5 separate regions of the Homo sapiens genome follow, and all the other regions are linked to region 1. The links come from fine-mapping of genetic effects on gene expression. A gene starts in region 1. Each other region holds a variant in brackets. All regions are shown on one strand. Distances are from middle to middle.

Region 1 (6,036 bases):
TACATTTACTGGTTTATTATAACGCATATTACCAAGAACACAGATGATGGGATGTACAGGGAGAACAGGCACGGAGTTTCCATGCCCTTCCCAGGCACCCCGTCTTCCAGCAGCCTCCACATGTCCAGGGATCCAGAAGCCCCCAAACCCAGACCTCTTGGGCTTCTTAAGGAGACTTCATTGGACAGACACGATTGACGACCATGCAGAAATGTGATCGAACAAAAAGGTATGATCCAATAGTGACTGAGTAAGTGTGGACACCCAAACAAGTCCTGCCTATTCCGACCGTTATTGGCCTTTCCGTGCAGGATTTCTTCCTCTCGGGAATGGGGCAGGACCCCTTCTGAATAGAGGGTCTTAAGTCCCACAATCAGAAAGATGAGGGAGGATTAGAGTCCTGCCTTGGGCTGGTGAGGTGGTGAAGGAGGGCAGGGGAAGTTCAGAGGAGATTGTTTCCTGGGGTGTCTGAGGCCTAAAGCGCCCCAACATTATAACAAGAGACTGTGATGAGGGCGACGAGAGTGCTAAGCCAGGAACCCTGGACAAAACCCAGAATTTATACCTCGTCATATCACAAGGACCAAAAAAATTAAAAATTAAAAAAAGGCTCTTAAAATGCAGGCAATACAGTAAAATGTTTTAATGTAGGAAGCACTAAAGTCTTTGTTCCAACAAAATTAACTCAGAGAACAAATTATTTTACATATGTATACAGATCAATCAACAAAAGTACACATTATAACAATTGCTAAACACTGTCCATAAAGAAAACATTTCAAATGAGAAGCGCCATCGCGGTTTTCTCCTTCTGGGTCACCCAGTGGAATGAGGGCCCTCGCCAGGGGCTCTTCCCAGACGTCTCTTCACACCAACCGGCTTCCTTCTGATGGCCCCATTTTCCTTTAAAACCAGTTCTCATCAAATAGGGTGTTTTATGCACCCTGGCAAATGATCATTTTGACAAGGATTAAAACTGTAAGCTAAACAGATGACACAAATGACAATTGGGAATAATTTTTAGTGGGGACAGAGGCTAAATACTACCCCCTCCCCTTTTCTACTTCTAACCAATATCTTGAGCATTCAGTGGGACAATACAGTCTTGCTGGGTCTCTTGAAATCCTCTAGCAAGAAGCCAGCCAGGAGAAGACCCAGAAGTCCCACACCTGTGGGGCCAGGATGGCTGCTTGGTTGCTAAACCCAGACAGGGTCCTTCCAGTGCATCTGCCCCTGTCAGGCTCTGTCTCGAGACTGGGGATCTTCCAGGCTGGCTTCATTCTGGACCAGAGAGCAGAGGAGAAGGAGAAAGAATATAAACCCACCCCTATGAGCCAGGGAACCACCCAAGCTGTAAGGATTTTGTGCAAGCTGCTGGAACTCGGGTTGGAAAAGCCACCCGGCAAGCAGCTGAAAGGAAGGATGCTTCTCCCTGCGTGGGCGCACGCCTGCTTCCTAAGAGATGATCCTTTGGGTGGGCTGATCATGCCTCCTCCTCTGGGGAGGGAGTCCTGCGAAAGCACGCACCTCAAAAGGAGTAAAGGCCCTATGGTGTCCCCAAAGCGACCCCTGTCGCGTTCTTTCTGCGGGTGGCCTCCCTGCATTACTGATTACTCGGAGCGGCTGAGCTGACGTCAGCATTCTGGGAGCGCCAATGACCTTTGGGGTCATCACATCCTCAGAAACTAGAGCAGGAGGGGAAGCGACCCCCAAGCCAGCACTCCCCCTACTTTCCACCAGGGAGCCGAGGTCGCGCCATCCTGGGGCGCATCTGGGGGTGGGGGACACACCAGCCCCCTCCCCCAACCCCTCTAGGGCCCTCGGCAGCAGGCGGTACTGGATGCCCACCCGGGGCTCTAAAGGACCTGGGCCGCACCGGGAACCCTCGCCCGGGTCTTCGAGCCCTCCCCTTCTCCCAATTCTTTCCGCAGTCTCAGGAGCCCCACGTTTCCCGCGGCGTGGGGACACGCACTTACCGCGGATCCACTGCGCAAACCTTGATGAACCTGAAAAAAGCAGGGTGGGGTGGGGTGGGGTGAGGGTGGGGGTGGCTAGACCCTGCTCGCACCCAGCGCCACGCACCGCTCTCTGGGCGGGTTCGAGTGCGCGCGCCGGGCGGGGCGGGACCCGGGGGCTGCGGTGTTTCGAGAAGCACGTGCTACTTCGCGCGCAGCGCCCCCGGAGACTGTGGGCTTCCTCGCTGCCTGGTCTACGGCAGGGCGGGCGCGGGGGCGTGTTTCAAAGGGTAGGGCACACAGTGAGACGCCGGGAGGCGGGATGGATCCGAAACCAGCTCGCAGCGAGTCCCAAGCGGCTGCGGCCGCCGCAGGGGTCTGGGCGCGGCGACGAGGGCGGCGTGGGGCGACGGGGAGCGGGACGGTGGCGCTGCACGCCGCGCACTTCCTGTTCAACACGCGCCGCCTCCCACCACCCGCGCTCCCCGAGCTTGCGTCGGTGCCAGGCCCGGCCCCTCACTGTCCCCTTGCGGTCCCCTGGGGCCGCGGCGCGGCGGGGGGCGAGGAGCGGGCGCCCTGCCCTTCTTGGCCCGCTGGACTCCGGGCGCCCCCTCCGGCGCGCAGGGCCGCGAGCGCCGCCGCCAGAACTTCTGCCAGCGGCCGCCCGTAGCCTAATTGCGCAGAGGGCTCGCCTTGCACCTCCTCTTCCCCCGCCGCCCTCCCTCTCGCCCAGAAAGGAGGACGGACCCAGCTGCAGGCTCCGAGCTGGTTTATTCTGCGGCCGAGGATTACATTTATGCACGAACGGGCTTACTGGTTCCAGATTCCCCACTTGGGCACAGGCATAGGAGGCTTGTTTTCCAAATTGCTGGTTTTAATTGCACCTGCCTTTCAGATTACCTCTGGGAATCTGTGGGAGGAGCCGAGAGGGTGGAAAATGTTTCTTAGCTTTGCAAAAGGAAGAAAACTTTGTCACCCAGCGGGAGACCTCAGCCACGAGTAACCCGGGGAGACACCAGAACCGGGACGGGCTTTGACTGATTTGCCTACGAGGGTTCCGTAGGAAAGGACGCTTGAATTCGGCGCTTCGGCGGCGGCGGCGGCCGCGCGAGTTCCCTGCTCACCCTCCCTCTCCGCGGAAGTCCCCACGAGGTGGCTTCAGGGTGTAACAGAGCGCGCGGCTCCAGTCCGAAGGCAGCGGCCGGGGGAGGGAAGGAGGGGACCGAACCCCCGAGGAGTTTCGCAGAATCAACTTCTGGTTAGAGTTATGGGAAGCGCGGTTATGGACACCAAGAAGAAAAAAGATGTTTCCAGCCCCGGCGGGAGCGGCGGCAAGAAAAATGCCAGCCAGAAGAGGCGTTCGCTGCGCGTGCACATTCCGGTGAGTCCCAGCACTCGGTCCCCTGCTCCCCAGCCCTCCTGTCGCTCCCGTCCCCGGCGCCGAAGCGGTTAACGCTGGACGCCCCGCGCGCGCCGTGCGTGCCCCTCCTGTCACTTCGGGCGGCTTGGGGAAAGGGTAGAGGGACAGGGCCCGAGCTGGGCTGGCGGAGCCGGGGCTCAATCTCTCTCTCTGCCCGCGTGCAGCCAGGGCTGGGGCTCCGCCTGGGGCGGGGGCTGGGCGGCTGCAGACTAGAGGGGGCGCCGGGCGCGGCGGGTGGGCGGCTGGGCGTAGCCCGGTATCCAGCCGGGTGCGGGTGCGGGGGGCGGTGCGTTGTGTTGTTTTGCTGAAAAGGGACGGTGTGGACTGCGCTCCGGGGAGGTGGAGCCCGCGCTCGGCTGCTGGAGACGGAGAGAGGGGAGGGGAGGGAGGAGAGGGGAGGGGCGGTGGGTGGGGAAAGCAGCGGGGCGGGGGTTGGGGGGAGCTGTGTAGCTGCGTCTTCCAATGCACCCCCTCCGCTCCAGTTTCTCTCCGGGCGTTTCTGGGCCTGGAGCGGGGGTCTCCTCTGCCGCCGTTCCCTTCCCCCGCCCCGGGAGTGTACTTTGGGTCTCTGTGGTATTTGGGGGCTCGGAGCTCCCTAATCCGTGCAGGCTGCATTGAACTTCAGCCCCGTCCGCGCCAGCCGCCCGGGAGGACATTGGCGACTCGGATCTGCCTGCGGCTTCACTTTGTCCAGCCAGAGGGGCGGCGGGCCGCGTAGTGGTTCTCTTTTCGGAAGGCGCCCCGGTAGCCCGCGGCCACTGTTCCTCGCCTCCACGTAGCGGGGTAGGGCGGTGGGAGGTGTGGCCCACTGGGTCACACCCTCCGCCTCAGCCAACCAAGTAAATGTTTGTGTACACACACACACACACACACACACACACACACACACACACACACACACACACCAGAGTGCTCCGTAGAGAAAGTTATTTTGCTCTCCCGGGGCAGGGTGGGAGTGCGCAGTGAATGGGCTGTCCGGACCCCTCATTAAAGCTAATCCTTCCCGACAGGGTCAGGCGCAGCTGGCATGGCCGAGGCAGGCCACTCACTTCCCACTGTGAATCCCAGGGCGCACTGCCCCGTGTTTGCTGAGCCACCCTTCTTTTAGACGCCCCGCTAAGGTCCTCCTGTGTAAACTCCGGCCCACACGTGCCTAACGCTTGGGTGAAGAGGGTGGAGTCCAGGGGCGGGTCTCCAGACACCTGATGCCAAGTAGCCCCACAGGGGCCCTGGGCCAGCCCTCCCTGGCTGGAAAGCTCTGGGGCTGGAAACTTGGACCCCTGGCTGCTGTGTGGCCCCCACGGTGGTGACTCGATTATGCAGGAATAAGTGTTCTATTTGAAAATGAAACATTCTTGTTTACATCTCTCATGTAAGACATTTAAAACCATGTTCGTGAGTTAAAAGTTAGATGTTGCTGCCACAAACCTCTTAAACAGTGATCACTTGAGCTAACCGTGTAACTACTGTTTCTCCCATTTGTCAAATGCAGGAAATAATACCCATTTTTCCTGCTTTATACGGATATTGAAATAAAGTAATTCATGGGAAAACTCTTTTTTATTGTTTTTTTTGTTTTGAGTCAGGGTGTCACTCTGCTCCCCAGGTGGGAATGCAGTGGTGCAATCATGGCTCACTGCAGCCTCAACCTCCCCAGGCTCAAGTGATCCTCCCACCTCAGCCTCCTGAGTAACTGGGACTACAGGCATGTGCCACCACACCCATCTAATTTATTTATTTTTTTTGTAGACATGAGGTTTTACCATGTTGCCCAAAGCTGGTCCACATGAGCTGGGCTCGAGTGACCCGCCCACCTTGACCTCTCAAAGTGCTGGGATTACAGGCGTGAGCCATCACACCCATCCCGGGAAAACTCTTGACAAGTGTAAAGTGTCCTATAAATGTATGGCTTATACATATACATATACATATACATATACATCATATACATATACATATACATCATATACATATACATCATATACATATACATCATATACATATACATATACATCATATACATATACATATACATCATATACATATACATATACATCATATACATATACATATACATCATATACATATACATCATATACATATACATATACATCATATACATATACATATACATCATATACATATACATCATATACATATACATATACATCATATACATATACATATATATCATATACATATACATATACATCATATACATATACATATACATCATATACATATACATCATATACATATACATATACATCATATACATATACATATACATATACATCATATACATATACATCATATACATATACATATATACATATACATCATATACATATACATATACATCATATACATATACATCATATACATATACATATACATCATATACATATACATATACATACATATACATCATATACATATACATCATATACATATACTTATACATATACATCATATACATATACATATACATCATATACATATACATATACATCAGACACCTAGTTTTTTAAAAAAATATATAGAGAGAAACAAGAACATGCCATTGTCCAGTGGTTGGGCCATTTTGTGTGGCAGCCACATGCTGAGGCTGGTTCCAAATGCAGGGTGTGAGTGATGTGTGGGCGTGCCCGTGGGGTGGTG
Region 2 (6,036 bases), 320 kb after region 1:
TATCACTGTTCAATACAGAGAGGGTCTCCCAGGGCGCAGCCGGCACAGAGCTGCCGTGGCCCAGGTTCTGAAGCCTTTTTTTTTTTTTTTTTTTTTTTTTTTTTGAGACAAAGTCTCACTCTGTCGCCCAGGCTGGAGTGCAGTGGCGCAATCTCAGCTCACTACAACCTCCGCCTCCCAGGTTCAAGCGATTCTCCTGCTTCAGCCTCCTGAGTAGCTGGGATTACAGGAATGCACCACCACGCCCAGCTAATTTTTGTGGTTTTGGTAGAGACGGGGTTTCACCATGTTGGTCAGGCTGGTCTCGAGCACTTGATCTTGTGATCCGCCCACCTCAGCCTCCCAAAGTGCTGGGATTACAGGCGTGAGCCACCGCACCCGGCTCCAGGTTCCAAAGCCTTTTTTTTTTTTTTTTTAAGACACAGTCTCGCTCTGTCGCCCAGGCTGGAGTGCAGTGGCACGATCTCAGCTCACTGCAACCTCCACCTCCCAGGTTCAAGCAATTCTCCTGTCTCAGCCTCCTGAGTAGCTGGGACTACAGGTGCCCACCAGCACTTCTGGCTAATTTTTGTATTTTTAGTAGAGACAGGGTTTCACCATATTGGTCAGGCTGGTCTTGAACTCCTGACCTCAGGTGATCCGCCCGCCTCGGCCTCCCAAAGTGCTGGGATTACAGGCGTGAGCCATCGCGCCCGGCCATCATGAAGCTTTTAAGAGAATAGCAACGCCGCTCCCTTCCTGCGGGTGAAAGGCCTGTTACAGAAACACCTCAAAACGCTCTGCCGTCACTCATCAGAGATTTCAGAGTAGAAAACTAGAGATGGACGTAGTCTATCCCACTTCATTATAGCTCATTTATCCTCTTGGATGCGATTCTTAATATATGAACTTCACAGAGAAAAGACACTGCAGAAAATAAAACCCTTGTAAGAGCTGCGACCTTGTTTCTTCGTTTCTGTCATCATCTGGACTTCTCTCCCATGTATTAATAAGACAAGTACCTGATAGTTATTAGAAACTGATATACAACTTTTAGAAATTAAAACAGTTATGTTTAACAATGTATGATAGCTACGTTGTGTTTCGTGTTTGAGTTGTATCTTTTCTATATTAATATTTTGAAAATTGAAAACTCAGCAGGGCATAGCTAGCTCATTTTTCTTAAAAGTAAGCAAGCAAATCAGCTTGAATTAGAGACAAATCAGTATCATTAGAGACAGGAGATAGATAGCTTTCCCCTCTTTCCTTCTCATGCCTGTGTCCCTGTTTTTCACCAGGGCTGTGACTTTTTAATACGGAGTAGGTCTTCCAGGTAATCAGACAGTAACACATTGAACATTAGAGCCTAAGGTCATCGTATGGGTCTGTCTGTGGCTACTTTCCCTCATTTATTCATTTATGGGATGTGTGTGTGTGTGTTGCTTTTTTCTTTTTCTGAGACAGGATCTCACTCTGTCACCCAAGCTAGAGTGCACTGGTGCGATCTTGGCCCACTGCAACCTCCACTTCCCAGGCTCAAGCAATCCTCCCACCAAGTAACTGGGACCACAGGTGCACACCAGCACACCCAGCCACTGTCTAATGTTTTTGTAGAGATGATGTCTCACTGCTATTCCCCAGGCTGGAGGGATGTGTTGATCATATAAAAACATGACAGGACATTATTTCTCATGTCCATTTTAAACCTTTTTTAAATGTTAATTTTCACGTGTCCTGCTTTTCTCTTTGCAGGTCCATCGGCTGGTGGTGGTAAATGAAGCAGATAGTATTGTGGGTATTATTTCCCTGTCGGACATTCTGCAAGCCCTGATCCTCACACCAGCAGGTAAAATGCTGGTTTCTGACCTTTGCCATCGGCGTCTAGGAAGGGTGGGAGGTAGAACAGGAAGTGCAGCATTTAAACCATCATTTCTCCACCCACCTACAGATCAAGGCTTTGAGTATATTACTTTGAAACCATTTTCGTTTTCTCTTCAGTTGGGAAGTTTAAGTGTTCTGCGTGAGTGAGGAAAGTGTATAGAACGTATTCGAAGTTAAGAGCATCCTATCAAGGTCCAGTGGCCCCCTAAATGACTTGGGAGCCATTGCCATGTTCATCATAACCTTTTCCACTGAAAAGACCTCTTCAATTGTGCTTTGTGAGAGAACTAGTGACCAGAAACATAGAGGGAACGTCACTGGCTTCTATTTGATACCTTCATCTTTCCTTAAAGAGAAAAAAAACTTATATTTTGAGTAGATAAAACAGAATACCTAAACACAAACTTTTATTCATTAATATTGTACAGAAATCACATTCACTTTCAGATAGAGTGTGGTTAAACTCATTTTTTGACAGATTCACTTTGAGCAAGCCTTCAGAGTCTCAGACAGTGAGGAGCAGAGAGAACGGGAGAGGGCTTTAGACAAGAGGAGCTGGCCTTCCTCTCATTTCACACACTCAGTAGTAAGAGGTGGGCTT[G/C]AGAGTTCTTAAAACTGCCAGCCCTCCCTTCCCTCCTCCTCTTCCCATCCCTCCACCTCCCCAGCCCCAGTCAAATATGAACAACCCAGCCTTTGTCAGGGCCACATGGACCCGATGTGGGAGCAAACAGCATGCCCTTTGAACTCTCAGAATCCAATATTAAACGGTGTGTGTGCTACAGTATTGATTTCTCTTTAGTTCAGAAATTTCAGTTAAGACTAGTTTTTACAATTAAGTCTGTAACCCAAAAATACCTACCCTAAAGGAATCTTCACCACCTGCAAGAAACATGTCTTATTCGCTAAATGAGAACACCAAGAGAAATTCCAGTACAGCAGTGATTTTTCCGAGGTGGTCCTCAGGCCAGGCATCATCACCACCACCTGGAATTTACTAGAAAATGAAATGTTCATGTTGGGGCCCCGTCCCATATCCACTGAATCAGAAACTCTAGAAATGGGGCCTGGTGCAGTCACTTGCAAACTTCAAGTGTTTAAAAGACCTGAATCTCACAATAGTCTCTATAATCATGAAACATTAAGAACTAAACGAATGTTAATGCCATAAAACTGGGAATAATCCAAATATCTTTGAAAAGAAGAATGGATAAATTGTGTCACATTCATTCGATGGAATACGATACAGGATTGAAAACGAACAGTACAGCTGCATTCAACAGTGGAGGAATCTCACAGGCAACATTGAACAGAGGGAGCCAGGCTCATCCAGACCATCATTAAATTCATATAAATTTCCAGGCAGGCATAACTGCACAGCACATTTGTGCTAACTAGAAAAGGCCTCTTCTCTGGGCAGATTTATCCCCACAGGTATATAGCTTGGCACCTTCAGAAAAAGATGCCCCGTTTCCAGCCCTGGACCACGGGACACAGTCTGCCCAGCGGGTCAGGCTGAATGTCAGCTCTTGTCTGTCTCTTTGGGCATTACAAAAAGAGTAAACAAGTCAAGCGATTCATCCTCTCTGTTTCTTGATATCTCAAACCATAAGAATGAACGGTTGTGCTGGATGAGTTCAAATTTCCATCCAGATTTGGTATTTCAAAAATTCTAAGTCATTGCAATGCCCCTCCCATCACTGCTGGTGCAGAGAGGAATCTATTTCCAGCTGGAATTTGGAATGTATGTTACCATAGAAATTGTGCCGTGAAGATGGGGGTAGCTGGGTTGGAATTCCTTATGATACAGTGTATACAACACGATTTGTTGAGGAAAACATTCCGTGTTACTAATAACTGGATTACAAGTGAACTTTTGGAGTGGAACTCAGGGAGCGCCTGCATCTGATCAACAATCGCAAGTGAGGAGGCCCCCACCGTGAGGCCAAGTCCCAGCTGTCCCACCCGAGCGCTGTCTGAATGTAAGCAAGTCGCTTCACCTCCTTCAGCCCCAATTTCTTCAGTAGAGAAGGAGCCGGCTGATACAGGCCCGTCTCCCTCCTATGTTGCTATGAAAAGAGCTGAAAGCCGTGCACAAAAGCCATGTGTGTGCAATGAGGCGCAGTGCCCGGGACCTGCACTGTTAGGTGGTTGTCCATGGAATAGTCAGTAAGAGGCAGTTTGATGAAGTGTCTGCTGTTACTCGATTAGAAGGTACTAGTGGTGATTCTTTTCATCGGGCAATGGCCACCGTTCCCCAGAGGGGTACTGGTTCAACACAATAACACTTTCTCTTTCTCAAAAAAGTTTTTAGCAACAGTTCATTGTCAAACTTAGACTGTCCAAATGAACCCATGTGTGCGTGCATCCAGTGTGTGGGCAGTCTGATGCCAGGAGCTACGGTGTTTCAGCCACACGCTCTAATAGATTGCCGATCTCTTTCAGGGGTCTAGCGTCTGGTGAAAAATTAGGAGAGAAGCTCCTGTGATGAGAAAAATAGTAGCTCTCCCTGCCAATCCACTGTGGAATGTCCTAGCCAGATACTTGTTAGGTGCAATTATCCTTCAGAATATTTATAAAGGTTTTTTTTTTGTTTTTTTGTTTTTTTTTTTTTTATTTGAGACGGAGTTTCACTCTTGTCAACCAGGCTGGAGTGCAATGGCATGATCTCTCGGCTCACTGCAACCTCCACCTCCCGGATTCAAGCGATTCTCCTGCCTCAGTCTCCCAAGTAGCTGGGATTACAGGCGCCCGCCACTACGCCCAGCTAATTTTTGTATTTTTAGTAGAGACAGGGTTTCACCATGTTGGCCAGGCTGGTCTTGAACTCCTGATCTCAGGTGATCCGCCCGCCTCGGCCTCCCAAAGTGCTGGGATTACAGATGTGAGCCACCGCGCCCGGCCTAAACCTTTTTTTAATACATATTTGTAAGAGTGCACAACTGAAATACTTCACACCTTCACTAAAACATACCTACATATTTCTTAGTAAAATTTTTTAAGAGTGGAATTCTTTTTTTTTGTTTTCCAAGTTAAATCTGACATATTTAGAATGACAAGATGTTACGTGGATCCAAGCTGCCCGAACGATTGGGTGGGAGATGGGAGCTTGGGCCACCTGCTCCTTCCCACATCGCCCTCCTCCGAAGCCTCTGGATCATCCTCCTAAGGCACTGCCAGACACAGGTAGAAACCCCTGGGGTAGAGAACCCTGCTGTTACCATGAGCTTTGAAACTTTCATCTTCCATCCACTGACAGGTGCCAAACAAAAGGAGACAGAAACGGAGTGACCGCCGTGAATGTAGACGCCCTAGGAGGAGAACTTGAACAAAGTCTCTGGGTCACGTTTTGCCTCATGAACACTGGCTGCAAGTGGTTAAGAATGTATATCAGGGTTTAACAATAGGTATTTCTTCCAGTGATGTTGAAATTAAGCTTAAAAAAGAAAGATTTTATGTGCTTGAAGATTCAGGCTTGCATTAAAAGACTGTTTTCAGACCTTTGTCTGAAGGATTTTAAATGCTGTATGTCATTAAAGTGCACTGTGTCCTGAAGTTTTCATTATTTTTCATTTCAAAGAATTCACTGGTATGGAACAGGTGATGTGGCATAAGGTGAGTGCACGGTATGTTCAGATCACAGTGCCTTATGTCCGAATACAGCAATATGTCACCGCCGCAGCCGGGGCGCACGCGTGTGAAACAACACCGAGCTTGAATGTGGAAGTCTTTGAACCTTTTACCAAATCAGTTTGTTTTCTTTAGATTTGTCAAAAAGTTGTAATTTGAATATAAATAATTACTTTAAAATTGTAATGACACTTTTACACGTAAGTGTTTTGTTCTGGGCTACCGTGTCAACGAGGCTGCTTTACAACAGCTTTATTTATTTTTACTTTCATGCAATTTTTTTACACATCTTTTGGTGGAGTAAACTTCACCACATCCATGAATAAACTCTCAGTTATTTTGAAATGGCAAATTTCTCATTATTTAAGTTTGGATCTGGAAAGGACATGACTTCTGAAATAGCCGCTGCTGGGTTTTAAAAGCTGAGGTCTCTCAAAGTGTGGAGGAGACGTTGCCGTCAGGCGGGAGCCAAGTGCCGGGAAGATGTCTATTTTTTTTCTTGTGTATTGAAATGTAAAATCATGATGTTTGTTATGACTGCTGATGCGA
Region 3 (6,036 bases), 260 kb after region 1:
GGGAACCTTTTGGCTAAATTTTAGTCACTTTTTAATCTGTTTAATATGCTGCCACGGCCGGGTGCTGTGGCTCACCCCGTAATCCCAGCACTTTGGGAGGCCAAGGTGGATGGATCATTTGAGTCCAGGAGTTCGAGATCGGCCTGGGCAACATGGCGAAACCCTCTCTCTATAAAAATAAATAAATAATACAGAAAATTAGCCAGACATGGGAGGTGAGTCCCATGCCTCCTGAGTCCAGGAGGTTGAGGCTGTGCTGAACCATGAGGGCATCACTGCATTCTAGCTGGGGCAACAGAGCAAGACCTTATCTGAAAAAAAAAATATATATATATGTACACACACACACACACACACACACACACACGCTGCCTTCTGTCCCACTTGGAGCTGTTTCCCATGTATCTGAATTTATATAACATCAATGAGGTTTCTGAACATCATGCTAACTGATTCATTTTATTTTAGGTTGTACTTTGGTCATTTGTAACTGACAGGAAGTTGCTAGCAATAAGTTGTTATTTTATGAATCATTTTCCACATTTTCTTGGAAGTGGAATGTTTCATTGTTCCGTCAAGACCTCCTCCCCAGTACACACATGCGCATTGTAAGACGCTTATTTACCCTCTTTCCTTGGCTCTCAGTCTTCACGTTGACTTCTCTAGCTTTGAAGCTTATACATACATACGATGTAACCCCCCTTTTTTTAATGCATGTGTAATTAGAGCCATAGCAATTAAGAGCATGAGTCAGATTCACCTTAGAGTCTCATTTCTTCTACTTAATAACTGTGAGAACTTTAGTAAGTTTCTTAAAGCTTTGGTTTCTTCATATGTAACTTGGAAATAATAATAGTACCTAGCCAGGAGGATTATATGTGGATTAAATAACATGGGCATGATATCCACTAGAGCAGGGGTCCCCAACCCCCTAGCCACAGACCACTACTGTTAGGAATCGGCCCACACGGCAGGTGAGCAGCAGGCGAGCGAGCATTACCTCCCGAGCTCCGCCTCCTATCAGATCAACAGCAGCATTAGATTCTCATAGGAGCGCGAACCCTATTGTGAACTGCACAAGCAAGGGATCTAGGTTGCACACTCTTTATGAGCTTTTTTTTTTTTTTTTTTTTTTTTTTTTGAGACAGAGTCTTGCTCTGTTGCCCAGGCTGGAGTGCAGTGGCGCAATCTCGGCTCACTGCAAGCTCCACCTCCCAGGTTCCAGCGATTCTCCTGCCTCAGCCTCTCAAGTAACTGGGATTACAGACACTTGCCACCATGCCCAACCAATTTTTGTATTTTTGTAGAGACGGGGTTTTACCATGTTGGCCAGGCTGGTCTCAAACTCCTGACCTCGTGATCTGCCTGCCTCAGCCTCCCAAAGTGCTGGGATTACAGGCGTGAGCCACCGTGCCCAGCCTTCCTTATGAGACTCTAACTCATGCCAAATGATCTGAGGTGGAACAATTTCATGCTGAAACCATCCCCCTGCTCCCCCATCCATGGAAAAATTGTCTTCCATGAAACTGGTCCCTCCCAAAAAGGTTGGGGACCACTGCATTAGAGGGCCTGGGATGTAGTATGGGGACCGCTGCATTAGAGGGCCTGGGATGTAGTACAGTCTCCATCAGCAGTAACTGCGATGATGACTAGGAAGACAAGAAGAAACCGAGCAAAAATTTAAAGTGATTCCAGCGATTCTGTTCTTCTGCACTGTCAGACTTTGCCCCATGTGGACACAGGTATGTATGCCACATATAGTTGGCAGCTTTTGCGATTGGATGTTTGTGCTTATCCCTGTTCCTGAGAAATGCTCTCAGGAAAGATGGTGTGTCACCATTTTACAAATGAAGAAATTCAGGCTCAAGGGTATCAATTTGTTCAAGCTCACAAGAAAGGCAGTAACAATTCTGACCTAGGGTTGGTCTAGATGCTTCTGTCTTCTCCATTGCCTCCCATTTGAACTGGGAGTACCTTGAGTAGTCCCCATTGGTGAACACTGGCTTGCTACCTGACATCTTCTATTGGTGACTTATTGTAATGGCTCTGCCAATGGTTTTTTTGTGTTTTGATTTGCAGTAGTAATTCTTGTCAGTGCTGTCACACAGTGTAAAAACAATGGCACGCCATAGTAGAAACTGTCAGAGGACGCACAACAGAAAGATCCATTATATTGCAAAACCCCAAAGAGGTGCACACATTTATGGACGTATGTGTAATCTCTGCGAAACTCCAGTGTTTCATTGTGAGTTAGGATAGCCTTTTGTCAGAGTCTCAAACTTCAGGACACTTGCGGGGACTTGGATGAAGTGCCCATCTTGAATTCATCAGAATGAATTCACCAAATTGCTCTGCCACTCTTGTGACTCAGCGGTTTGCTGAATATATTCACTTACCTCTCTTCCCTCCTAAAGTCTACTGAAATGACATAGATCAGTGAAATCAACTACAAAGGTAGTCATGCTTAATAAAAACAAAAACTTAGTTCTTGGATAAGTCAGTAAAGTGGATAAACCTTTGTCAAGTCTGTTCAGGAAAAAATGGGAGAAAATGCAAAGCTTTAGAAAGAAGAGAAGCTTCTTAACTATAAATGCAGAGATCTTTAAAAGTAACGTTGATCAAAGCACACCGGCCGGGCATGGTGGTTCACGCCTGTAATCCCAGCACTTCGGGAGACTGAAGTGGGAGGATCCCTTGAGCCCAGCAGTTCAAGACCAGCCTGGGCACCATGGCGAAACCCCATCTCAACAAAAAAAATACAAAAACTATCCGGGTGTGGTGGTGCACGCCTGTGGTCCCAACTACTTGGGAGGCTGAGATAGGAGGATTGCTTGAGCCTGGGAGGTGGAGGTGGCAGAGAGCCAGGATCACACCACTGCACTCCAGCCTGGGCAACAGAGATGGTACACTTTAAATTGGCGAACCTGTGAATGTGAATTATATCTCAAACTATTTTTGTTGGTTTTTTGTTTTGTTTTGTTTTGTTTTGTGACAGGGTCTCACTCTGTCACCCAGGTTGGTCTGCAACTCCTAGGCTCAAGCCATCCTTCCACATCAGCCTCCCGAAGTGCTGAGATTACAGGCGTGAGCTATTG[C/T]ACCCAGCCCCAACAAAGCTATTTTTTAAATAAGATAATGAAAGGTCTTATTCCTCTTCTGCTACAGAAGAGCATACCATTCTATTCAGCCTGTTTATGGATGAATTCTGTAAAACTTTTCAGGAACAGTTAATGCCTTATTTAAATTATTTTAGAACATAGGAAAATATGGAGCACTTCCCAGCTCCTTCCGTAAGGCTAGCTTGATCTTGAAATCAAAGCCAGAGGAAGATAGCACACAAAGAAGAAAACAAGCGATCAGTCTTACATTTAAAATGTGGCCAAAGCTCCTAAACAAACACTAGCTATGCAGGATTAAAAGCCGAATATATTGTGGTCAAGTAAGGTTTATCTTAGAAATGCAAGTATTCTTCTGTTGATTAAGAAATCTAGGCTGGGCAAGGTAGCTCTTGCCGGTAATCCCAGGCCTTTGGGAGGCCAAGGTGGGCGGCTCAGGTAATCCCAGCCCTTTGGGAAGTCAAGATGGGTGGATCGGGTAATCCCAGGCCTTTGGGAAGCCAAGGTGGGTGAATCACTTGAGCCCAGGAGTTCGAGACCAACCTGGGCAACATGACAAAACCCCATCTTTAATTTTTTTAATTAAAAAAAAATTTTTTTAATCTATTAAGGAGCTGGATGTGGTGGCTAACACCTGTAATCCCAACACTTTGGGAGGCCAAGGTGGAAGGATCACTTGAAGCCAGGAGTTCAAGACCAGCCTGGACAACATAGCGAGACTCCCATCTCTACAAACAATAAAAAAAATTAGCCAGGTATGGTAGCGGATGCCTGTAGTCCCAGCCACTCAGGAGGCTGAGACAGGAGGATTGCTTGAGCCTGGCCATTTGAGGTTGCAGTGAGCAGTGATCATGCCACTGCACTCTAGCCTGGGCAACAGAGTGAGACCTTATCTCAAAAAAAAAACAAAACAAAAAAACAAAGCCATCTATTGAGAAATCTAGTCCCAGCTTCTTGGGAGGCCATGGTAGGAGGATCTCTTGAGCCCAGGAGTTTGAGGCCAGTCTGGGCAACATAATGTGATCCTATCTCTAAAGAAAGAAAGAAAGAATGAGAGAGAGAAAGAAAAAGAAGAAATTGCCTAAGGAATTAATGTTGTTGATAAAGGAGAGAAACTGGTAGTCATCTCAGTAGATACTGAAATAGCAATTAATAAAATTCAACATATGTTCCTTTTTAAAAATCGTTAATAAACCAGGGATATGAGGAAACTTCTTTAAGTAGCTAAAAGTATACCTCATGACAGCCAGCGGGGGCAGCAGCTGTATAATTCCTGGTGCAGGTTGAGTCTCCCAAATGCGTGGAACTGGAAATGTTTAGGTTTTCTGATTTATTTATTTATTTTTATTTTTATTTTTATTTTTTATTTTTGAGACGGAGTCTCGCTCTGTCACCCAGGCTAGAGTACAGTGGCGCGATCTCGGCTCACTGCAACCTCTGCCTCCTGGATTCAAGTGATTCTCCTGCCTCAGCCTCCCGAGTAGCTGGGATTACAGGCATGCGCCACCATGCCCAGCTAATTTTTGTATTTTTAGTAGAGATGGGGTTTCGCCATGTTGGCCAGGCTGGTCTTGAACTCCTGACCTCAGGTGATCCTCCCACCTCGGCCCCTCCAAAGTGCTAGGATTTCACAGGCATGAGCCACCGCGTCTAGCCGGTTTTCTGATTTTTTTCAGATTTTGGAATATTTGCATATACATAATGAGATATCTTGGGGATGAGGACTCAATTTTAAACACGAAATTCATGTTTCATATATACCTTATATACATAGTCTGAAGTTATTTTATACAATTTTTTAATAACTTTGTGCATGAAACAAAGTTTGTACAGATTGAACCATCAGAAAGCAAAGGTGCCACTGTCTCAGCCACCCTTGTGGACAGTCTGGCATCACCATCGTTCCTGACTCTGTATTTCTATGCTACTGATAAATACAGTGAAAAACCGATGTGTTCAGGGTAACTTATGGCATTGTGTTGGCACTCGGAAAGTTTTGCATTTTGGAGCATTTGGGATTTTACGTTTTTGGATTATGGATGCTCCACTGTACCTGCCAAGGTGGGTCTCACTCTTCTGGCCTGGCTGGTGCTTGCTGCTTCATCCCTGTGAGCTCTCCTTGGCCATCACCGTTCTCCAGCTTCATCACTGGGTTTTCTTCCCTGAGAAAGGAATCATTGGCTGTGGTAGATGCTTTAATTATGTATTAATAGTTCCTAGAATTCTATGCAAAACCATTTTAAAATTCTGACAGGAGCCACATACAATTTCAAGGTCATTGCTTTGTCCGTGACTTTCCTTAGGCATCGATTGCAACTCACTTTGAACTAATTGGGCAAACTCTGCCTTGATCCTGCCTGTGCTTTTTCTTCTTTCCTAATAACTCTTTTACTGCCCCCTTATTTAGAAGAGTGTGTGCATTTTCTCGCCCGTGTACACATTTGCCCCCACACACAAAACCAAATGCAAAAAGCATGGAAAGGGGAAAAAAAGTAACAGACTTCATTTATTCTGCCACCTTATAATTGTAAATCCTGTAAAATTATGTTTAAGATTTGCCTTTGTTTCTGTTCATGTTTCTAGGCACTTTAGAAAAACTTAGGGGTTTTTATTTTATTTTATTTTTTGAGACGGAATCTCTCTCTGTCGTCCAGGCTAGAGTGCAATGGTGCGATCTCAGCTCACTGCAAACCCCGCCTCCTAGGTTCAAGCAATTCTCCTGCCTCAGCCTCCCAAGTAGCTGGGATTACAGGTGCCCACCACCATGCCTGGCTGATTTTTGTATTTTTAGTAGAGACGGGGTTTCACCATGTTGACCAGGCTGGTTTCAAACTCCCGACCTCAAATGACCCACCTGCTTCGGCCTCCCAAAGTGCTGGGATTACAGGCATGAGCCACCACCACACCCGGCCTATTTTATTTT
Region 4 (6,036 bases), 200 kb after region 1:
TCCCCCAGCCTCCTGCAGTTGCCTGCACTGCCCAGAGCCATTCTGGAGTCAGAGGGCTGGGCACTCAGCTCCAGCGGCCCTGGAGGGTAGGGCTCTGGAATGAGGGGTGGAAGGTAAAACCTGCGGGCAATAGGGGCCGTGCGGGGAGAGGGTGTAGGAGCCAGGCCAGAGGGCACCTGAGAAAGGGCCAAAACATTGAAGCAGTGGGTTTGCTCCTTGAGAAAACAGAGTCCTAAGCAGACATCAGAGGCTGGGTTCTGGGTCACCTGCCTGGCCTGAACTTGTGTCACACAGGGTCTCGCGCCGCCCAGGGTCTCCGCCTGCCTGCTGGTTGCATCCCTCTGTGTGCTACAGCTACTCAGCACAGGTACTCCTGTCCCTCTCTGGCTGTGGCACTTTCGTTGGGCACCTCCCTGGGCCACCGTTCCCCCTCACGGCGCTCGCCATCCTCCCTCCAAAGTAGGGAACAACACCTGGCCCCTCACTCTGATGAGTGGTAGGAGGTTTCAAAACCCTGTATAAGCAAAGCCTCCCTCCAGTGTCAATGGAAATGTTGCTCTTCTCACTTCATGGCTCTTGTAACAACAGTCAGCAGAATACATTACTTCCTTCTTGTCGTTCCGTTCCTCAGGCAGGAATGAGGCTCTAGCTCATTCCATTTACGCAGTGGAGGGGCCGGATTGCACCAGATAGGCATCTGGTCTACCTGGTTTATTTTTACCAAGGCAAGGGGTGGATTTGTCCCAGAGCCCATGGCAACTTAGTGGTAAAACCAGACCTAGAGCTTGGGGCTTCTGAGGGCCAGGCCTCTGTTTCCACCCAGCACAGCTATTCCGTTCCAGCAGGGCTCAGTTCCCTTTGGTGGCACCTCTGTTCTCCTCCTCCTCCTCTCCAGCGCCTGCCAGCAGGGCCAGGCCCTGTGAAGTCACCAGCCCATGGCTCCCCAGTGTCTGGACCCCCTTTCGTGGTGTTCTGTGTGGCTGCCAGGAGCAGTTTCTGTTCCCTCGCTGGGCTGTTCACTGGGCCTGGCTGCCGCCCTGGGAGAATCAAAGGCATTGTTCACTGCAGAGGCTGGCGGCGTCCTAAACAAAGTCCTTAAGGAGCAGGAAAAAGGAGGAGATGTCTTCTCAGAAGGAACAGAAAGGGGGCACCTGTCTGTCCTTTGGCCAGAGCCTTCTTGGGTGACTTTGGCCATGGCCCAGTTCTGCCTGGGCCCTTAGGAGAGGCCCCTGGGCCGGGGCAGACCTGTGTCCTCCTCCAGGATCGGGGCCCAGCTCTTTCCTGGGGTTTCTGAGCCACCGTCCCACCCCCACCCTCAGGCCCTCTCCTCTTCCCTGAGCTCCCCCCTGCTTTCCTGGTTCTCGACTTTATTGCATGGTGGTGTTGGGGCTGATTTTTTGGTTTTGTCCCCATTTCTCCTACAGACTACAGGGACTTGCTCTAATCCATCTTAGCACCTCCTTCCTCAACACCCCCAGCATACTTGGCCCGTGGAAGCTGTCCAGGAACTATTCATTTACTGATCAGACCCAAGGTTGAGTTCAGCAGTTGACCTTATGATTAAGAAATACATTGGTCTATTTAAAAGTAATGGGGGGCCAGGCATGGCGGTTCACACCTATATTCCCAGCACTTTGGGAGGCTGAGGCAGGAGGTGACTTGATACCAGGAGTTCAAGACCAGCCTGGGCAACATAGTAAGATGCCATCTCTACAAAAATAAAAAAATTAGCTGGTGTAATGGTATTTGCCTGGAGTTCCGGCTACTCAGGAGACTGAGGTGGGAGGATCACTTGAGCCCAGGAGTTTGAGGCTGCAGTGAGCCGTGATCATACCATTGTACCCCAGCCTGGGCCACAGAGTGAGACCTTGTCTCAAAAAAAGTAATGAGGGATTGTGTCAGCATTGCCCATTTTCCCTTTTATTTATGAATAGTGATACCAACATTGAAAAGAAAAAAAGCTTAGGAATCATTCTTACTACCCACCTTACCTGACTCATAAGACAGTTGTTTCTCTACTGATTGAATAGCATAAACCTGAGTAGAAGTCACTTCTTTGTTGGTCTACCCTTCCTGGCTGGCATGGAAGAAAACCCTCTTTGGGGGAAGCCTGTCCCTCCCTACATGGGGCTGTCCCACCTTAGGAAGCACATGGGGTCCCAAGCTCACTCCGTCTCTGTGCCCTTCTCTCTTCTGTGGCACCTCTTCTTTCCCTCTGCAGTCACCCAGTGTCATCCAAGCTCTCCTTCCTGTTGGCCCCGTGAAGCCCCACTTCTGGGAGAGTAATTCATACAGCTAAAATGTAATTTTAAGTCTTCATGTTCTTTCTCTCGGTGATACCCCAGTTTGATTGTGGCAGAAAGTGTCTGGGTTATAGAGTCAGGACAGTGGAGCTGAGGTGTGGTCCCTGCCATTTATTCGCTAAAGGACCATGGATAAGTAGCTGAACTTTCTCCAGCTACCAGTTTCTTCATCTGTGAGGGGCAGAGGGGGCCAGAGTGTGTAAGCCCTCTGTAAACAGGGTGGCATCGTGCAAAAAACAAAAAAAAAGTGTTGATGCTGCAAGACTCTACCCCCTCTTAAAAACATTTCGGGTATCAGTCAACAGATAGGGCATATGTTAGGTTCCAGGAGGGTTCACTCCCCATGCCCCTAACTACACACATATCCCTAATGCACACACTGTGAGTCTCAGCATTTCACCTGTCCCTTCCTCTAAAAGTTTCCCTTCCCCCTCTGTAGTCCAGAGTG[C/A]CACCTGTTTTCCCCACAGGAGTCACCAGCTCTGGAAGGAACAGGAAGGCCAGGTGGAAAGATGGGAGCAGCTTCTGAACTTGGAAAGATGGCAATGATAGAGAATCATTCAGCCCCACCAGAAATGAGGTGTTCCCACCCCCAAATGAACAGTCCACCTTCTCATCTCCTCGGCCCCAGAGGTTCACTCCTGCATCCCGCCACCTCTCTCACCTCCTTTGGGACTGGGTTAGGATCATTCCAGTACTCACACGGGGGTGGCCTGCAAGGGGACAGGGCCATGGGAGGAGCGGACACCGTGGTTTGTGCTCTTAAGAGCTCTCGGCAGGGGGTGGGGAGGGGCTTGGTCACAGTTGCATTCTCTTTAAACTGTTTACTTGAAAGATGAACGTTCTGTACCCAAAGAACTAGCAAGGAGTTTTCATGGGCTGTGAACATCCCTTGCACAACAGTGACTAAGCTTCATCCCTGAAGAATGTTGGAAGTGGAAAAACTTCTCGAAGAGAAAGAGCAAGGGAGAGGACAGCTCAGGAAGGCACAGCCATGGCCCTGATTCTAGTGGGAGACAGGACAGAGGTCCTGGTCCTGGTCCTCGTGGGAGACACCCCTGCACAGAGCTGGGGGGCGCGTCGGGGCAGGCAGGGCAGGAAGCAGGTCAGTGCTTAAATATGGCCTTCGCCAGCCTCTTGGCTCAAAAGCAAAGCAGTGGCTGAAAAGAAGTAATTTTCTGAATGGATAATCCATTCTCATGATAGAAAGTTTGAAAAATCAAAAAGGGGATATGATGAAAGTCCTCCCTGCCAGTTGTTCCCTTCCCTGGAGACAGCCAGTGTTTCCAGATCCTGCCAGAGATAGTCTAGGCAAAATCAGACAGGCAGAATATAGATACTTTCTTTCCTTTTTTCAAAACTACAAATGGTATCATTCGATACAGATGGCTCTGCAGTTGGCTTTCTTCACTTACCGCTCCATCTTGGAGATGAAAGGAACGAGGATCCCTGTCATGTTCCGACAGGAATGGTGGCTGCCTGTGCCTGCAGATGGGCCATGATTTATCTAACCTCTTCTTGACGAGCCTCTGCGTCTCCAGGCTCTGCTTTTAAAAGCACCATGGTAATGAATAAGCCGACACTTAGTACAGTCGACACTTAGCAATTACACAAATAAGTCTATGGCCCCAGAAATGGAATTACTGGGTCCAGGAACATGCGCGTTTGTGGTTTTGATCAGTGGTGCCTAGATAGGCACCACAGAGTACCTGTTTCCTCTGGGCCTTTGCCCAATGCCTGCATGGGTGCAGTTTGGGCTCATTTTGTTGTGTTGTGTTTTGTGAGATAGGATCTTGCTGTGTCACCCAGGCTGGAGTGCAGTGGTGCAGTCCTAGCTCACTGCAGCCTTGAACTCCTGGGCTCAAGCAATCTCGCCATGTAGCTGAGACTACAGGCATATGTCACCATATCTGGCCAATTTTTTTTTTTTTAATAGAGACAGGGTCTTGCCATGTTGCCCTAGGTGGTCTCAAACTCCTGGGCTCAAGTGATCCTTCTCCCTCAGCCTCCCAAAGTGCCGGGGCTACAGGCATGAGCCACCGCACCTGGCCAGGGCTAGTTTTGATCATGCCCTGCTCAGGGATGGACATAGCTACTTTTCAGCATTGTCCATGGAGGAGGCTTTAGAGATCTCTGTGGCTGGCCCCTTCCTTTACACACGAAGACCCCAGCCCCCCAGAGGGGTTTCTCTGCAGGGCTGTCACAGGTCATGAGGATGTGGGGGGTGGCACAGGTTTTTGAACCTAAAACGCCCCCCACCACATCCTATTCAGCTCTGCCCCATCAGGTCCCTGCACATGCCTACAGGAAGCAGGGGCACAGCCCCCGGGAAGTGCCACTGAAGGGGCCCTGTGTCCAGTGGGGAAAGGGGCTGGGAGAGGAGGATGAGAACATTCCCTCTTGACTCTCAGGAGAGGAGATAGCCTGTCCTAGGTGCATTGTGGGACCAGGACGAGCCCCTGCTGGAGACTTTGTTGCTGCAGGAACCACTGAAGGATATGACTCTGGGGTCTAAGGCCCCAGGCAGTGCCCCACACTACACACAAAATAGCACACAGGCTTCTTTGCTCTGCCCCTGCAGATCCCCCTGAGAGGCCCCGGGCAGGCCTCCCCGAGCCCTGGCTACTGTCTCTATTTCTCAGTGCCAAGCAGCTGGAGCCTGGCCCTGAGAAGGGTCCGGATGGGCCGGCAGCCCTTTTGTGGTCCTGCCTGCTGACACACCCCCATCTCTGAAGAGCTGCTAAACCACATCAGGACCTTCCCACTCTTCCTCTTCCCTCTCCTTCCTCCCCACCCCACCTCAAAGCAGGGTTTTCTTCTCAAGACCTTTGGGGGAAAATATTCTACTTTTCTTTTTTTTCTTTTTTTTTGAGACAGAGTCTCACTCTGTCACCCAGGCTGGAATGGAATGCAGTGGCACAATCTCAGCTCACTGCAACCTCCGCCTCTTGGGTTCAAGCGATTCTCCTGCCTCAGCCTCTGGAGTGGCTGGGACTACAGGCGCGCGCCACTACGCCTAGCTAATATTTGTATTTTTAGTAGAGATGGGGTTTTGCCATGTTGGCCAGTCTGGTCTTGAACTCCTAACCTCAGGTGGTCCACCCACTTCAGCCTCCTGAAATGCTGAGATTATAGGCATGAGCCACTGCACCTGGCCTCTATTTTTCAAGAGTTTGGGACTTTGTTGTGAGGGCCTTTTACATTTTAAGTTTCGGGTCCTAACCCTCTCCTCCTGCTTCCACCCAGAGCTGCCTCCCAAGTGCCAGCCCGGGGCTTCCAGAGGGCTTTCCACTCACACTGCTCAGTCTCCTGAAGGGACTCCCTGGAAAAGGGGGCTCCTTCTCTAATAGGTGACTTCCTAAACCTCCCCCGGACACACAAAACAAAACATGCGCCCCACTCTCCACAGAGAGGAACAGATTCACCCTGACCTTGAGCCGGTCCTCTCACTGTTCTTTCTGTTCCTTGCCTGGTGGCAGCAGGCATTTGCCAGACCCCTTGGCTCAGGACAGCACTGGGTGCCCTGGGGCCCAGAGGGAGTGGCAGGACCCCCGTCCCCAAGACAGACGGTAGATCTTGGTGGGGAGAGGGGACTTACATACTTTTATGTTTGGTTTGAACGTTAAACAGTTTGTCATTAAGTGGTAACATACAGGACAGTGAAAAGGCTTTATGAGTTTGGTGACACGAGGGACAGGAGGACAGGTCCTTCCCCATGAGGATGGAGCAGGAGGGA
Region 5 (6,036 bases), 180 kb after region 1:
CTAAAAGCAAGCAGCAATTCTGGGGAACATATGTATAGAATGTTCATACAGCATCATTTATAATAGCCCCAGAGTAGACGCCGCCCAGATGCCCATCAGCAGTCGAAATGGTAAACACATGATGGTAGATTTGCATAATGGAACCTCCTACAGCAATGTGGAGAAACAGTCTATAGCCACATGCAGCAGTGTGGCTGCATCTCACAACCAACACTGAGCAAGAGAAGCCTGAAGCAAAAGAATACAAAATGTGCAGCTCTGGGTCACAAAATACACAGCCAGGCAAAACATATGATGCTAGAATCATGAAGATTAGTTAGAAAGAATAAGACCTACTATTTGATAGCACAGTAGGGTGACTGTAGTGAATAATAACTTAATTGTATATTTTAAAATAACTTAAAAAGTGTAATTGGATTGTTTGTAACTCAAAGGATAAATGCTTGAGAGGATGGATATCCCATTCCCCGTGACCAGCTTATTTCACATTGCATGCCTCTTTCAAAACAGCTCAGGTACCCCATAAATATATACACCTACTATGTACCCACATTTTTTTTTTTGAGACAGAGTCTCGGTCTGTCATCCAGGCTGGAGTGCAATGGCGCAATCTCGGCTCACTGCAACCTCCGCCCCCCAGGTTCAAGTGATTCTCCTGCCTCAGCCGCCTGAGTAGCTGGGATTACAGGCACCTGCCACCATGCCTAGCTAATTTGTGTGTGTGTGTGTGTGTGTGTGTGTGTGTGTGTGTGTGTGTGTGTGTGTGTGTGTGTGTGTGTTTTCCAGTAAAGACAGGGTTTCACCATGTTGGTTAGGCTGGTCTCAAACTCCTGACCTTGTGATCCACTCACCTCAGCCTCCCAAAGTGCTGGGATTACAGGCATAAGCCACCGCGCCCAGCCAAAAAAATTTTTTTAAATAGAAAAAGAATGATGATGATTATCTGAGGAGGCAGGTGGTGCCTGGCAGGGAGATTGAAGGGGGCTGCCATGTGGGTAGTAACATTCCTTTCCTTCTCTGGGTGCTGGTTACATGGATGCATGAACTTTGTGCAAATTTGTCAAGCTGTACACTCTCAATGTGTGCACTTTTCTATATTATGCTCCATAAAACATTTTTTAAAGCCCAAGTGGCCAGATGATGTGGGAGAAGTTCCTTGAGTTGTTCTCATCAGTAAGACAACTGAGGGCTTGACGGAGCCATCCAGTGCTCCGGCCACAGCGGAGAGCAGAATCGCTGCTATCTGGGCAGAAGACACTGCAGGGGAAACACCAGTTTATTTGCTCATTGGTAAAATAAACTGAAGACACATTGAAAAGCAGCTGCAGGAGCTCTGAAAACAGATTTCCTTTCTTAGAGCACCCGCAGTCCTTTGCAGGGTGCCATTCACTGTGACGGAGAAGGTGCGCTTTTCCTCTTTCCTTCTTTGCTTCGCGCGCGCTGATGAGTGAGTCAGAGAAGCCATCATGGCCTTGAAGAAAGATGAGCTATTTGAGCAGCAGGCAATGTGAGAGGCTGAAGGGCTGGCAGAGGTGTCTTCTGCCAGGTGTTCCCTTTTCTCCCTGGGCAGGCAGGTTAGGGAGCCCAGCATAGAGGCTGGGTCCCTGGAGAGATGAGCAGAGGTGAGTAGTACATGGACGGATGCTTAGAGGCAAAATCGTGCCCTTGGCAGTTTGACATTCACTCTACTTGCTCCAGTTCTCGGAACTGGAAGGCGAGAGGTATCACCCCCAGCTTCTGGCATTCCAGACCTACAGTCCTGAACTTGGACCCTTCCCAGGAGAGACCTTTGGGCTCTGGTCCTCGCCCTCCTTGCCATCACCTCATCCCCTCAACCAAAACTTTGCTATCCTAGGGGCTGTGCCCCCCAGGCCTTCACTCTGATCATTAATTCATGCTAGAGTCTTATTATCCAATAACAGGACTTGGTGTTTCTCCTGAGAGTATTTTAACTTGGGATTCTTGGGACTATGAATGCCTCCATCCTAAGGAATGCATTGCCAACTGGTGAGTGTGAAACTTCAAAGTTGCATTTGTCTGTGTACAGAGCGGACCTGGCAGTGCCCTGATGGGCTTCCTGGCAGATGGGGAGAGGAGATAGGGGAAGGAAGGCAAGCGGGTGGGCAGGGACCTGGCAAGACTGCCGTGGGGGCTCCCTCTGTGGGTGGGACTCTCAGGATCAGTGTGGACCTGCATCCCCATCCGTCTGCTGTCAGCATGGACGAAAGCTCCGGCCTGAATGTCTAGGTGGACTTTCTCATGTCAGGGAAGAGAGTCAGTGTGTGCCTACTGATGTCCCTTTGATGATGAGGCCTCCTCTCTCTTTTGGGGGACCGGCACTAGGGATGTAAAGGATGTGGAAGATGCAACTGGGCTACCCCAGCAACTTTTTCTGAAAATTAAACTTTTAACCTTTGCTTCTTTCTTAGAAAGCATTCTGCAGAACACCACCCTCCAATCGAACTCCCCGCACAGGGGGAAGTGTTCTGTATCCATGCTGTCCATCTTGGTAGCCACCAGCCACATCTGGCTGTTGAGCATTGGAAATACGGACAGTGCAGCTGGATTAGCACCCAGGGCTACCATACACAACAGAGCACCACACACCGGGTGGCTTCAAACAGCAGAAACTGACTCTCTCACAGTTCTGCCGGCCAGAAGGCTGAAGTCAAGGTGTGGGAAGGTTGGTTTCTACTGCAGGCCCTGAAGGAGAACCTGCTCCCCACCTGCCTCCTGGCCTCTGGCAGTTCTCGGCAATCCTTATTCTTTTTTTTTTTTTTTTGAGACAGAGTCTCGCTCTGTCGCCCAGGCTGGAGTGCAGTGGCGCAATCTCGGCTCACTGCAACCCCCGCTTCACGGGTTCACGCCATTCTCCTGCCTCAGCCTCCCGAGTAGCTGGGGACTACAGGTGCCCACCACCAGGCCGGCTAATTTTTTGTATTTTTAGTAGAGATGGGGTTTCACCGTGTTAGCCAGGATGGTCTCCATCTCCTGACCTCTCGATCTGCCCGTCTCGGCCTCCCAAAGTGCTGGGATTACAGGTGTGAGCCACCACGCCCGGCCGGCAATCCTTATTCTTTGGCTTAAAAAGATGCACCGCTCCAATCTCAGCTTCCATCTCCCTGTGTATCTGTGTCCACGTTTCCTCCTCCTTATAAAGACACCGGCCACTGGATGAGGACCCACCCTAGTATGACCTCATCTCAACTTGATTATATCTGCAATGACCCTATGTCTAAGGTCACATGCACAGGTACCAGGGTGAGGTTTTCATTGTATCTTTTTGGGGAGACACATTTCAACCCATAACAGCAACTAAGGAGCTGAACTTGAATTTTATAAAGAAATAGCTATGTGAGGCCAGTGGCTGCCTCTTGGACAGCACAGGTAGAGACTGGAGGGAGAAGGTGGCTAATTTAGTGTTTCTGTTCAGACCTCCTCCTCCCCCGGCCCAGTGACGCAGGCCTCAGGTCTGGGTCAGGTGCCTGCTCCAGTGGGGCTTCCCTGGGGGGCAGCCCCTGAGGAGTGGGAGGTGGAAGGGGGTGGACTCTTGTGCCTGACAGCTGAGGGGAGGAGAGGACAGGCGTCTGCTGGGTGCTCGTGTGTGCAGC[A/G]CATTGCATGACTCAGTTGGCACATCAAGGCTGCATAATGCTCTGTGGTCTCGCCTGTGTGGAAATGCCTGGGACATCCTGTGTGATCCCTGCTCGGATTTCCCGGGCAGGCTGGATGGGTTCTGCATGGATGTTTGACCTCTAAACGGGCAGGCCAAGCACTGAGGATTATTTGGGGTTCGGCACAAGGCCAGGCTCCCCCCGTGTGGAGGGGATGGGTGTGGGAGGTTAAGGGAACTATGGCCTGGCCACATAAGGGGAAGCCTGGAAGCTACCGTCAGCTTCTCCAGGGCCTGGGACGCGTGGCGGAGATAGCCCCAGTCTTCTCCCAGAACTCAGATGATCTCCTACAGCAGGTGGCTCTCAGGGTGTGAGCCCCAGACCGGCAGGCCTGGCATTACCTGGAACCTCATCAGAAAAGCCAATTTCTGGACCTCCATCCCAGTTCCCAAATCTGAATCTCTGAGGGTGGGGCTCAGAAATCCACAGATTCACAAGCCTGCGTTAAAAAGGGGGTCCTGATTCTTGCCAAAATTCGGAACCCCTGGCCTACAGCCGCGTATCTCACCCTGACGTGTCTGTCGGTCACTGAAGAGTCTTGTCAAAGGGCAGATTCAGGCTCCGTAGGTCTGGGGTGGGGGCCTGGAGGTCTGCGTGTCTAACAAACAGGCTGCTGGTCCTCAGACCATACTCCAAGGAGCCAGAGTCTACAAACCTGAGCTCCACGAGGGCTGGGCTCTTCTCTGTCGTGTTCACTGTCCCCAGCACCCAGAACACAGCCCGGCGTATAATACGCCTCTTTCTTTTCTAGCCACTCAACTTAAAACACTGCTGCAGAAGGAGCTGCTAAACGTCACCCCCGATTTCCCTTGTTGGGGAGGAAACATCATTTTGCAATGATGCAATGACTTATTCAAAGACCTGTTTCCTATGAGATGACAGGACAAAAACCACATTGCCGAGAACTCCATCACCAGATTTCAGTGGAACTATTTCATTAATCTTGTATGCAGCAAAATGTTGGCAGGTACACAAGGCTCCTGTTGAGGCTGTTTCTGCAATGTGGGGGCACCCATCTGCGGCCGCCTGTGGCAGCAGAGCACTGCCCCTCTACTCCCTTCTTCCTCCGCTATGTACCCCAGTTTATCTTAGTCCCAGTCCTTCTTAAAGACCAGCCTATATCAAGAACCTCCCCACTGCCTCCTCTGAGGGCCTGAGCACCTTGCTGTGTCCCAGCCTCCTCGTCCTGCTTTCAATGATTGATGAAAAGATTGACGTGTCCTCCATCAGATGCTTCCTGCACTGTCTTAATGGCTCATGCATTTCTTTCTGGCCCGTAGGCTGGGTTCTGTTACCCCAAGCCCAGGCACTGCATATCCCACTTCCAGTTCTTCCCTGTACAGCCGGTGCCCAGTGAATACTTCTCATCTCATTGATTCACTGATTTATTTCAAAGCAAAAGTAGTCTGAAAGGCCCTTTGCCATTTCTTAATCATAAAACTAAACATCTCCAACAGGAAGGAGGGGCCTCCTGTGCTGGCCTTCATGATAAAGTCGCCGAGATGATCTCAATCCCAGTGAATTCACGGCTCCAGGGCCACCTTAGCGCCTCTTTCTCAGCAGGGGGCTGAGATGTAACCGGATCGTAACCACACAGGCATCCGGCCAGCAGTCAGCATCTCCCGGAGATCTGCTGGGACTAGGCCTGCAGGCAGCCTGACCGCAGGGAGGGAGGCAACCTTCGTGGGAGATCTTCAGAAATATTGTTCATTCGGTTTCTCAAGAGTCTCCAACTACAGTGCAGTTTAGCTTTCACAGCTTACATCCCAGGTGTCAAAGAGACACAACTTGGGGCAGGGATGGGGACAGAGGTCAGAGAAGGAAAGGTGGCCTAAGGGCATTGAGGGGTGCTCCCCAGAGTTTGCAGACTGGCTCTGCAGACTTGCAGGTCATTTCCTGTACCCTGTCCTGAAACCCTCCCACGGCCCGTTTGAGCCTATCAGTCATTTACACTGTAGCGAGAAGTTACCTGATTTCAGGACCTTCTTGCAGAGGTGGGTTTTCCTAGGGTTCCACGTGGCATCTCAGGGTGGCTTGGAGTGGTCCAAAGAGCCAAGTCCTTGCATCTGGATAGGTCTGCAAGGGGCTGACGCTGGTATCCATTGCACCCATTCCCCTGCCTGTAATGTGGATTCCCTCAAAAGCAGAGCTGGTGACAAGGGTCAGGGAGTTGGTTTGGGAGATTGTGTTAGTCCATTTGTGTCACTATAAATATCTGAGTTTGGGCAAATTATGAAGAAAGGAGGTTGATTTCAGTTCACAATTCTGTAGGCTGTAGGAGAAGCATGGTGCTGGTGTCTGCTCCTGGCGAGGCCTCAGGAAGCTTCCAGTCATGGCAGAAGGCAAAGGGGGAGCTGAGGTGTCA

Direction of the effects. Alleles are on the strand shown, and positions count from the first base shown. SD is a standard deviation of normalised expression in the study named. Not every link is listed here.
With allele G in place of C in region 2, the expression in monocytes after interferon gamma of the gene that starts at base 2,728 in region 1 is higher (moderate effect, 0.44 SD a copy in Fairfax 2014).
For the expression in tibial artery of the gene that starts at base 2,728 in region 1, allele C in region 4 goes with a higher level than allele A (small effect, 0.12 SD a copy in GTEx).

What was found. PIP is the estimated chance that this variant, and not a neighbour inherited with it, causes the effect. A credible set is the group of variants that fine-mapping cannot tell apart.
Region 2: its variant is the best candidate, but not a certain one, in a credible set for the expression of PRKAG2 in monocytes after interferon gamma (Fairfax 2014, PIP 0.71).
Region 3: its variant is the best candidate, but not a certain one, in a credible set for the expression of PRKAG2 in whole blood (INTERVAL, PIP 0.53).
Region 4: its variant is the best candidate, but not a certain one, in a credible set for the expression of PRKAG2 in tibial artery (GTEx, PIP 0.62).
Region 5: its variant is the best candidate, but not a certain one, in a credible set for the expression of PRKAG2 in nasal epithelium (TOPMed, PIP 0.63).

The regions. Positions count from the first base shown.
Region 1 is chr7:151,873,807-151,879,842 of GRCh38, reverse strand. It overlaps PRKAG2 (protein kinase AMP-activated non-catalytic subunit gamma 2), which reads left to right and starts at 2,728. Exons shown (of 16, transcript NM_016203.4): 1 at 2,728-3,336. The coding sequence starts at 3,223. PRKAG2-AS1 (PRKAG2 antisense RNA 1) reads right to left here and starts at 2,801. Exons shown (of 3, transcript NR_038926.1): 1 at 2,703-2,801; 2 at 1,977-2,006; 3 at 620-1,281. RefSeq lists silencers at 2,234-2,663, 3,426-3,475, 3,536-3,675 and an enhancer at 3,866-3,985.
Region 2 is chr7:151,556,313-151,562,348 of GRCh38, reverse strand. It overlaps PRKAG2 (protein kinase AMP-activated non-catalytic subunit gamma 2), which reads left to right. Exons shown (of 16, transcript NM_016203.4): 15 at 1,732-1,825; 16 at 5,117-6,036. The coding sequence ends at 5,148. Among named protein-coding and RNA genes, the nearest start is that of RHEB, 39 kb to the right of the region's middle. RefSeq lists an enhancer at 2,412-2,706. The variant G/C (reference allele first, on the strand shown) is at 2,462.
Region 3 is chr7:151,618,469-151,624,504 of GRCh38, reverse strand. The region is part of intron 5 of PRKAG2 (protein kinase AMP-activated non-catalytic subunit gamma 2); the gene reads left to right. Among named protein-coding and RNA genes, the nearest start is that of RHEB, 100 kb to the right of the region's middle. The variant C/T (reference allele first, on the strand shown) is at 3,096.
Region 4 is chr7:151,678,098-151,684,133 of GRCh38, reverse strand. The region is part of intron 3 of PRKAG2 (protein kinase AMP-activated non-catalytic subunit gamma 2); the gene reads left to right. Among named protein-coding and RNA genes, the nearest start is that of PRKAG2-AS2, 130 kb to the left of the region's middle. RefSeq lists enhancers at 1-311, 312-895, 896-1,481, 3,200-3,867. The variant C/A (reference allele first, on the strand shown) is at 2,752.
Region 5 is chr7:151,698,589-151,704,624 of GRCh38, reverse strand. The region is part of intron 3 of PRKAG2 (protein kinase AMP-activated non-catalytic subunit gamma 2); the gene reads left to right. Among named protein-coding and RNA genes, the nearest start is that of PRKAG2-AS2, 100 kb to the left of the region's middle. RefSeq lists a silencer at 1-53. The variant A/G (reference allele first, on the strand shown) is at 3,612.